2 separate regions of the Homo sapiens genome follow, and region 2 is linked to region 1. Evidence: fine-mapped expression QTL. A gene starts in region 1. The other region holds a variant in brackets. All regions are shown on one strand. Distances are between the middles of the regions.

What was found. PIP is the estimated chance that this variant, and not a neighbour inherited with it, causes the effect.
Region 2: its variant is the best candidate, but not a certain one, in a credible set for the expression of MKNK1 in Th1/17 cells (Schmiedel 2018, PIP 0.84).

Annotation. Positions count from the first base shown.
Region 1 is chr1:46,602,514-46,606,770 of GRCh38, forward strand. MKNK1 (MAPK interacting serine/threonine kinase 1) reads right to left here and starts at 1,755. Exons shown (of 13, transcript NM_001135553.4): 1 at 1,672-1,755. RefSeq lists enhancers at 1,069-1,569, 1,337-1,386 and a silencer at 1,717-1,936.
Region 2 is chr1:45,935,055-45,939,311 of GRCh38, forward strand. All of the region lies in intron 4 of MAST2 (microtubule associated serine/threonine kinase 2), which reads left to right. Among named protein-coding and RNA genes, the nearest start is that of MAST2, 130 kb to the left of the region's middle. The variant G/A (reference allele first, on the strand shown) is at 2,315.

The sequences.
Region 1 (4,257 bases):
AAATTGTGCAGGAACTTGTCTGAGGCTGGAGTCCAAACTCTACATCCAGCTTGTCCAACCCGCGGCCCTGGATGGCTCTGAATGTGGTCCAACACAAATTCATAAACGTTCTTAAAACACTGAGATTTTTTTGCAATTTTTTTAAAGCTCATCAGCTATTGTTAATGTTAGTGTATTTTATGTGTGGCCCAAGATGGTTCTTCTTCTTCCAATGTGGCCCAGGGAAGCCAAAAGATTGGACACCACTGCTCTATATAGTAGGCAATGATGCCCACCAAGGTTTCCGAGTAGTGTCTCAGGAAGAGCACAAGGGCACCCATGAAGAGGATGCAAAAGGAACTAAGTAATTCAATTACTCTGGGACCACATTACAGGAGACCACATGCACTTTCTAAGCACGTGCTGGGCTCTGACAGCTCCTGTTCACAGAGCTTCCCTCTCCCATGGCTTCGCTTCATGCAATCTGAGTTGCCATCCCCCACAACTGTCAACATCTGCAAAATACCAGAGTAACAGGACTCCTAACCAACTCTCTGGATTACAGAGAGAGAAGTGTTGAGGTGGGAGCAGATGGGCAGAGGGGGCACCAAAGCCTCTAGCTGGCTCAGTTCCATATAAAACCCAACCCTGGATTTCCTCTTCACATCACTTCCAGCCCAGCCCTCTAATGAAGGGCTGAAGCTAAGGAGAGTGGGCTGAAAGCACCTGGCTGATGGGTGGTGATCCAGTGAGACATTACACCTACTGTCCAGCATGTGCCTGGCGCATGGGCAGTGGTGCCCTTCCCATTCTGCAGGGTCAGTTCCATCTGTAAATCCCACTGAGGCTTCAAGGCCCAGGTCACAACAACTCTTCTCTCAGAGCCTTTCTAAAGTACCCCAATCCAAAATGACCAAGCTCCTAGAAATCACAGCTACCATGTATTCAGCACCCATTACATGACAGGCGCCATACTAGGTGACTTCCATATAATCCTATTCACCCTTCACAATGACCCTATTATGGCCATTTCCTAGGGAAGAAAGTGAAGCTCTGGGAGGGGAAGCAGACTTGCCCCAGGACACACAGCTAAGAGGTGGAAGAGATGAGATCTAAACCCAGGACTCCCTGACCCTGAAGTTGAGCACTTCTAACAACACTTCATTCCTGTGAGCCTGCCTGCCTCTGATCTGCCACTGTCAGGGAGCTTGGAGCTCTCTAGAAGACAGGGTGCACCTGACACTCTTATTACCTTTCCCTGTGGACAGCCATCCACACAGGCAGGAGCCTTTAAATACTGAAAATAAATGAAAACAATTAACTTAAAAATAACGCAGTACACAGATTTCACAAATTCCTCACGTGAAAAACTATTCATGATACTGGACTGCCTGAGCCCTGCGCCCAGCCATAGCCTCGGTCCTGATCCCTGGGAGAGACTGAGTCTCAAACGGGCCACAGAGTAAGCGCCATCTCGGACACCGGCCACGCCCCGACCCCAGGCACAGAGGTCGCAGACAGCTCGGGACAGTCCTGAAAAGCGTCCCCTTAGGCTGTCCCTCCGCAGCTGAATCGCGTCGTGACCTCGGGCAGCCGTGAAGGCCCTGACTGCCCCCTTCCGGGCACACGAGCTCACTCACAGACCCCGGCCCCATTTAGCTCGGAGGAATACCTCGCAGGTCTCGCTTTTACCTTCGCTGGCTCCCGCCGGGGAGCGGTCGCGCGCACCCCTACCTGCAGATCGCTCCTCCGAGAACGCGGAAGAGGCGGTGCTAGATCCAGGGGGTGGGCCCGATCAGAGAGGAGGGTGAGGGGGCGGAGCTGCGCCTGCGCCCTGATGGCTACCCAGGGCCGCCTGAGGGCAGGGGGCTCGAGCTGAGCGAACTGCGCAGGCGTGACAGGGAAGAGGCGGGGAGAGGGGAGATTGCTGGCAAGCGGGTGGGGCTTAGCTCCTCCGGCGCTTTCTTTTCCGAATGGAGGGTGGAGAAGCCCGGGAAGGTAGGAGGCCGGGCGCGACAGGTGTAATTAACATGTACTGAGAGCTTCTGCAGGCCAGGAAGGAATTTTAAAATGCCTTTTATATGTGGGGAAATGCTGCTAGTCTTTTCTAAAACGGGGGCCAATTCTGTACAATTTCTTTAAAAGTCTGAGTGCCTAGAATTTCACCATAAGAGTTTCTCCTTGAGTACAACATTATCCCCAGTATTTCAAAATTTTTAAAACTTTTAAAAGTTCATTTCTTGGGGAAAAACAACTGTAAATAGGTTAATGCCTCAACCAGTCTCCCCACATCCCCTTCCCAAGTCTGCAGCTGCGATGAGAAAGGATGAGAGTGTGGACTGGGATTTAATTCAGGCGCTGACTCCGAGTGATGGAGGTGAACATCCCTTCCCTGCCTGTCTCAGGATTATCGTGAGGATTTGGTAAGCCAAGCTAGTTAAAGAGCCCCAGGGACTTGCTTCCCATCATCCACCTGACAAACATTTGTTCCCTGTCTTGTCGGGGCTGTCTTTTCATCTGTATGATGGAAGGAGATTGGGAATATTAGTGAACATTCAGGACTTTGCTAGATTTCCCAATCTGGGTGAAGGCCGGAGAGGCGGAAGATCAAGCTTCTGTGTTCATTCCCTTCTGGAATCCTGCGGTCCAACCTGAGGGCCCCGATGTATCCTGACTTCTCCCACTCATTACCTTCCGTGGAGGCCGATCCAAGCTTCAAGTCTTCAGAGGCCCTGCTGGCCTGTTCCCTTCCCTGTTGCCTGTGGCAATAGCCCAAGAGATTCAGGACCTATGTTCCAGGTTCTCAAAGTTGCTATGTCCCTCACATGGCAATCAAATTCAGTTAACATCTTTGAGGGCTCTGGGGGTGCTCAGAGGAAGGAGGGCTCCCCCAAAGCAGGTGGAGCTCTAGTCATGACTGTGGCTTATTTCACCACATATTCCACAGCTTGCTGTGGGGTAGGGAGGAGAGGCAACAGGAAACCTCAGAGGCTGCAGTGTTTATGGGAGCCGAGGGTGATGCGGCATCCTTTACTCAATAGGTGGATGCTCTGCCCCAGGCTGGAGAGGATGGCTTACTACCTAGGTCCCTGCTCCAAATATTGTTTTGGAATTTTTTTTCTTTTTTTTTTTCTGAGACAAGGTCTCACTGTGTTCCCCAGGCTGGAGTGCAGTGGCACCAGCTTTGCTCACTGCAACCTCTGCTTGGGCTCAAGTGATCCTCCTGCTTCAGCCTCCTGAGTAGCTGGGATTACAGGCATGCACTACCATGACTGGCTAATTTTTGAATTTTTTTAGAGGCAGGGTTTTGCCATGTTGCCCAGGCTGGTCTCGAACTCCTGAGCTCAATGATCCTCCCACCTTGGCCTCCCAAAGTGCTGGGATTACAGGGAAGAGCCACTATGCCCAGCTTTGTTATGGACCTTGAGCCAACAGGAAAATAAAGCCCAGCCTGACTTCTCAACCAAGCTGCCACTCTACCTCCCAGGACCCTTTGTTACTAGGTTTTGCCCCATGGGAGTGTGCTCTTTTATCTGCATCATTGAGGCCCTATCTCTTTCTTTTCCCCTTCTCTTCCTTTCTGTCTATTCTTCTTTAAGCATCCCTCTGTGAATCTCTCAAAGCAATTTTGTGTCAGCTTCCTAATGTATTTACAGATATTCTCATGTAAGGTGCAGGTCTTGGGTCACACAGTTCTAAGATAAATCTACTCTCACTGCCATGGTCATATTTCAAAATGACCATGAACCCAAAGCATGGGACTTGTAACAGTCTGAGCTGTCCAATGACAGAGGAGGTAGTGAGCGATCTGTTATAGGAGGTGTGCAAATAGCACCCTTTTAGAATGCTGGGATTGGGCCTCCTGTGGTGAGCCAGAGGAAGAGGCAGCAGAATGGAGGGCCTTCCAGATTCTAGAGGAGTGACTAAAGGCAGGGATATTGGGGGCTGGAAGGGAAGCAAGGCAGCTGGCCAAAGACACACTTGATTCAACAAGCTATTATATGTCAAGCACTTAGAAGTGTACCTGACACATAATGAACATTAGCTGTTATGATGACTGTGAATGATTCATAGACTATATAATGAAGGAGCTGAGATCAATCAGTCCTTCACTCCCATCACTGATAACAAAATAGATGAAGGGTTGGGGTCTAGAGGGGGAATGGGCTTGCAATGGAACTTCAGGAGCTGGGCTGGGGCTACAACCTATGCCTTTGCCTCCCAGGAGAGCCTCTGCACAAAGCCAGGCTGGCTCCTTTGCAGGAAGAGGGAAGAGCT
Region 2 (4,257 bases), 670 kb before region 1:
CAGCATCCATTATTTTTTGGCTTTTTATTAATAACCATTCTGGTTAGTGTAAAATGGTATCTCCTTGTGGTTTTGATTTGCATTTCTCAGATGATTAGCGATGTGGAGCATGTTGTCGTGTTTGTTGGCTGCTTGTGTGTCTTCTGAGGAGTGTCTGTTCATGTCTTTTGCCTATTTTTTAATGGGGTTATTTGTTTTTTGCTTGTTCAGTTAAGGTTTTTTGTAGATTCTGGATATTAGACCTTTGTCAGATGTATATTTTGCAAATATTTTCTCCCATTCTCTAGGTTGTCTGTTTACTCTGTTGATAATTTATTTTGCTGTGCAGAAGCTCTTTAGTCTAATTAGGTCCCATTTGTCAATTTTTGTTTCTGTTGCAATTGCTTTTGGTGTCTTCATCATGAAGTCTTCCAGGGCCTATGTCCAGAGTGGTATATTTTAGGGTTTCTACTAGGGTTGTTATAGTTTTAGGTTTTACCTGTAAGCCTTTGATCATCTTGAGTTGATTTTTGTATATGGTGAAAGGAAGGGGTCTAGTTTCAACATTCTGCATACGGCTAGCCAGTTATCCCAGCACCATTTATTGAATAGGGATTCCTTTTTGCATTGCTTTTGTCCACTTTGTCAAAGATCAGAAGGTTGTAGATGTGTGGCTTTGTTTCTGGATTCTCTAACCTTTTCTATTGGTCTGTTTGTCTGGTTTTGTACCAGTACTATGCTGTTTTGGTTACTGTAGCCTTGTGGTATAGTTTGAAATTAGGTAGTATAATGCCTCTGGAATTGTTCTTTTTGCTTCTGCTTCAGATTGCCTTGGCTATTTGGGCTCTTTTTTGGTCCCATATGATTTTTAGAATAGTTTTCTCTAACTCTGTGAAAAACGTCGTTGGTAGTTTGAGAGGAATAACATTGAATCTGTAAATTGCTTTGGGCTGTATGGCCATTTTAACAATATTAATTCTTCCTATCTGTGAGCATGGCATAGTTTCCCATTTGTTTGTGTCATTTCTGACTTCTTTCAGCAGTGTTTTTTAATTCTTGTTGTAGAGATCTTTCACCTCCCTCTTTAGCCATATTCTTAGGTATTTTATTCGTTATGTGGTTATTGTCATTGGGATTTCATTCTGGATTTGACCCTCAGCTTGGACGTCATTGGAGTGTAGAATCACTACTGATTTTTGTATGTTGATTTTGTATCCTGAAACTTTGCTGAAGTTTATCAGATCTAGGAACCTTTGGGCAGAGGCTGTGGGGTTTTCTAGGTATATAGAATGGTAATTGTCTGTGAAGAGAGAGAGTTTGCCTTTTGTTTCTTTCTCTTGCCTAATTGCTCTGGCTAGGACTTCCTATGTGGAATAGGAGTGGTGAGAGTGGGCATTCTTGTTTTGTTCCAGTTCTCAAGGGGACCGTGTTTTTTGCCCAGCATGATGTTACCTGCAGGTTTGTCATAGACGGCTCTTATTATTTTGAGGTATGTTCCTTTGATGCTTAGTTTGTTGAGGTACTTGATTGTCTGATCATTTTTTCCTCTGTGTAACTAATCTCCTTTTGTAACCACCAGCCTTCTGTGTGTATGCCCTTCTCACTTCACTGGGTCTCCAATACCCCATGAAAGACTGGCACCACTGTTCTCTTCAAGCAGACAACTTCCTTATCCCCATCAGTCTCTGACATCCCAGGCCAGGTACCTCAACCCCAACCCAGCCACATGGCCACCATCATCATCATCATCTTGTGGCCTCTAGACTGAATTATTCAGGAAAGAAGGAGAGGAAGGAGGATTCTAAAGCCCCCTAAGTACCTCAGATTCAGTCTCAGGGGCCTGCACATTTTGAAACATCTGACTTGAGTTTTTTTAAGTTTCTTTATTTTTTAGAGATGAGTCCTCTCTTTGTTGTCCAGGCTGGCCTCAAACTCCTAGGCTCAAGCAGTCCTTCCACCTGGCCTCCTGAGTAGCTGGATCTAAAGGCATTATACCACCATGCCTGGGCTTTTTTTTTTTTTTCTCCAGTCACTTTTGTTTTTATTTATTCTAATATTATTTGTTTGTTTATTTATTTTCTTTCTAGAAATGAGATCTCACTACGTTGCCCAGGGTGATCCTAAACCCCTGGGCTCAAGTGATCCTTCCACTTCAGCCTCCTGAGTAGCTGAGACTAAAGGCATGCACCACCATGGGCAGCTTTTTTTTTTAATTACAGTCACTTTTATTTTCATTTTAAAATTTTATTTATTTACTTGCTTGTTCATTACTTTTTTTTTCTAGAAATGGGATCTCTCTGTTGCTCAGGCTGATCTCAAACTCCTGGGCCCAAGC[G/A]ATCCTCCCACCTCAGCTTCCCAAGTAGCAAGGACTACAGGAGTGTGCCACCATGCCTGGCTGAGACAAAATTTACAAAGTATAAAATATGCCCATTGTGGTTGGGTACGGTGGCTTACGCCTGTAATCCTAGCACTTTGGGAGGCCGAGGCAGGTGGATCACCTCAGGTCAGGGGTTCGAGACCAGCCTGGCCAACGTGGTGAAGCCCCGTCTCTACTAAAAATACAAAAAAATTAGCCGGGTGTAGTGTCGCGTGCCTGTAATCCCAGCTACTTGGGAGGCTGAGTCAGGAAAATCACTTGAACCCGGGAGGTGGAGGTTGCAGTGAGCCGAGATCACACCACTGTACTCCAGCCTGGGAGACAGAGTGAAACTCCATCTCAAAAAAAAAAAAAAAAAAAAAAAAAAAAAAATTACCCATTGTAAGCAATTCAACGTAAGCGATTCAATGGTTTTTTACTAAATTTAATTGCCTATTGTAATCTCTTCAGTGTAAGGGATTCAATGGTTTTTACTAAATTTATATAATTATGTATTGTCACCATAATCCAAATTTAGAACACTTCTGTCACTCAGAAAGTTTACTTGTACCCACCTGTAGTTAATCCTACTCTTCTAATTCCTAGCTCTAAGCAATAACTCATCTGCTTTTTGGTTCTGTATTATGTGCTGCTAAATGTAGTTTTTTGTTTCTGGTTTCTTTCACTTAACATAATGTTTTTGAACTTTATACATGTAGCATATTCATTCCTTTCTATTGTTGAATAATGTTTTATTATTGGATAGACCATATTTTGTTAGTCCATTCACCAGTTGATGGACATTTATATTGTTTGCAGTTTGGGAGTATCACATTAATGGTGCTGTGTACATTTCCATGCATATCTTTGTGTGGACATATGTTTTTATTTCTTTTGGGAGTCAGAGAATTGTGTTGTATGGTAAGTTTATGTTTACTTTTCTTTTTTCTTGGAGATGGAGTCTCACTCTGTCATCCAGGTTGGAGTGTGGTGGTGTGATCATGGCTCATTGCAGCCTCAATCTCCTGGGCTCAGGGAATCCTCCTGCCTCAGCCTCCCAAGTGACTGGGACCACAGGTGCACACCACCATACCCAGCTAATTATTATTTTTTTATTTGTAGAGATGAGGTCTCACCATGTTGCCTACACTGGTCTTGAACTCCTGGGCTCAAGTGATTCTCCTGTCTTGGCCTCCCAAAGTGCCAAGATTACAGGTGTCAGCCACTGCGCCCAAACTATGTTTACCTTTTTAAAAAACACCAAACTGTTTTCTGCAGTGGACTGCATCATTTCACATTCACAGAGTTTATTTTTTAACATTCTCACCAGCACTAATTACTCTCTCTTCTTGATTTTAACCATTCTAGTGGTGTGTAGTATATCACTGTGGTTTTAATTTACATTTCCCTAATGGGTAATGATCTGAGCATCTTATCTCATTGTTAGCCATTTGTATATCTTTTTTGGTGGAATGTCTGATCAAATATTTTTGTTCATTTAAAAAATCTGTTCGTTTTTTTTTTAAATATTGAGCCTTGAGTTCTTTGTATGTTCTAGATACAAGCCCTTTATTAGCTATATGATTTGCAATTATTTTCTCCCTGTCTATGGTGGTTCTTTCCATGTATTTGGATGGTGTCGTTTGAAATGCAAAAATTGATAATTTTTTATTTTTTATTGATCATGCTTTTGGTATCTAAGAACTTACTTGCCTAACCCAAGCTGTTTTTTTTTTCCATTTTCTTCCAGAAGTTTTACATTTTCTACTCCTAAATTTAGGTTTATGATCCATTTGAGTTAATATTTATGTATGGTATGAGGTCAAATGTGTGTGTGTGACTGTCCAATTTTTCTAGCAGAATTCGCTGGAAAGGGTATCCTTCTACTATTGAATCCTCTTGACACCTTTGTTGAAGTCAAT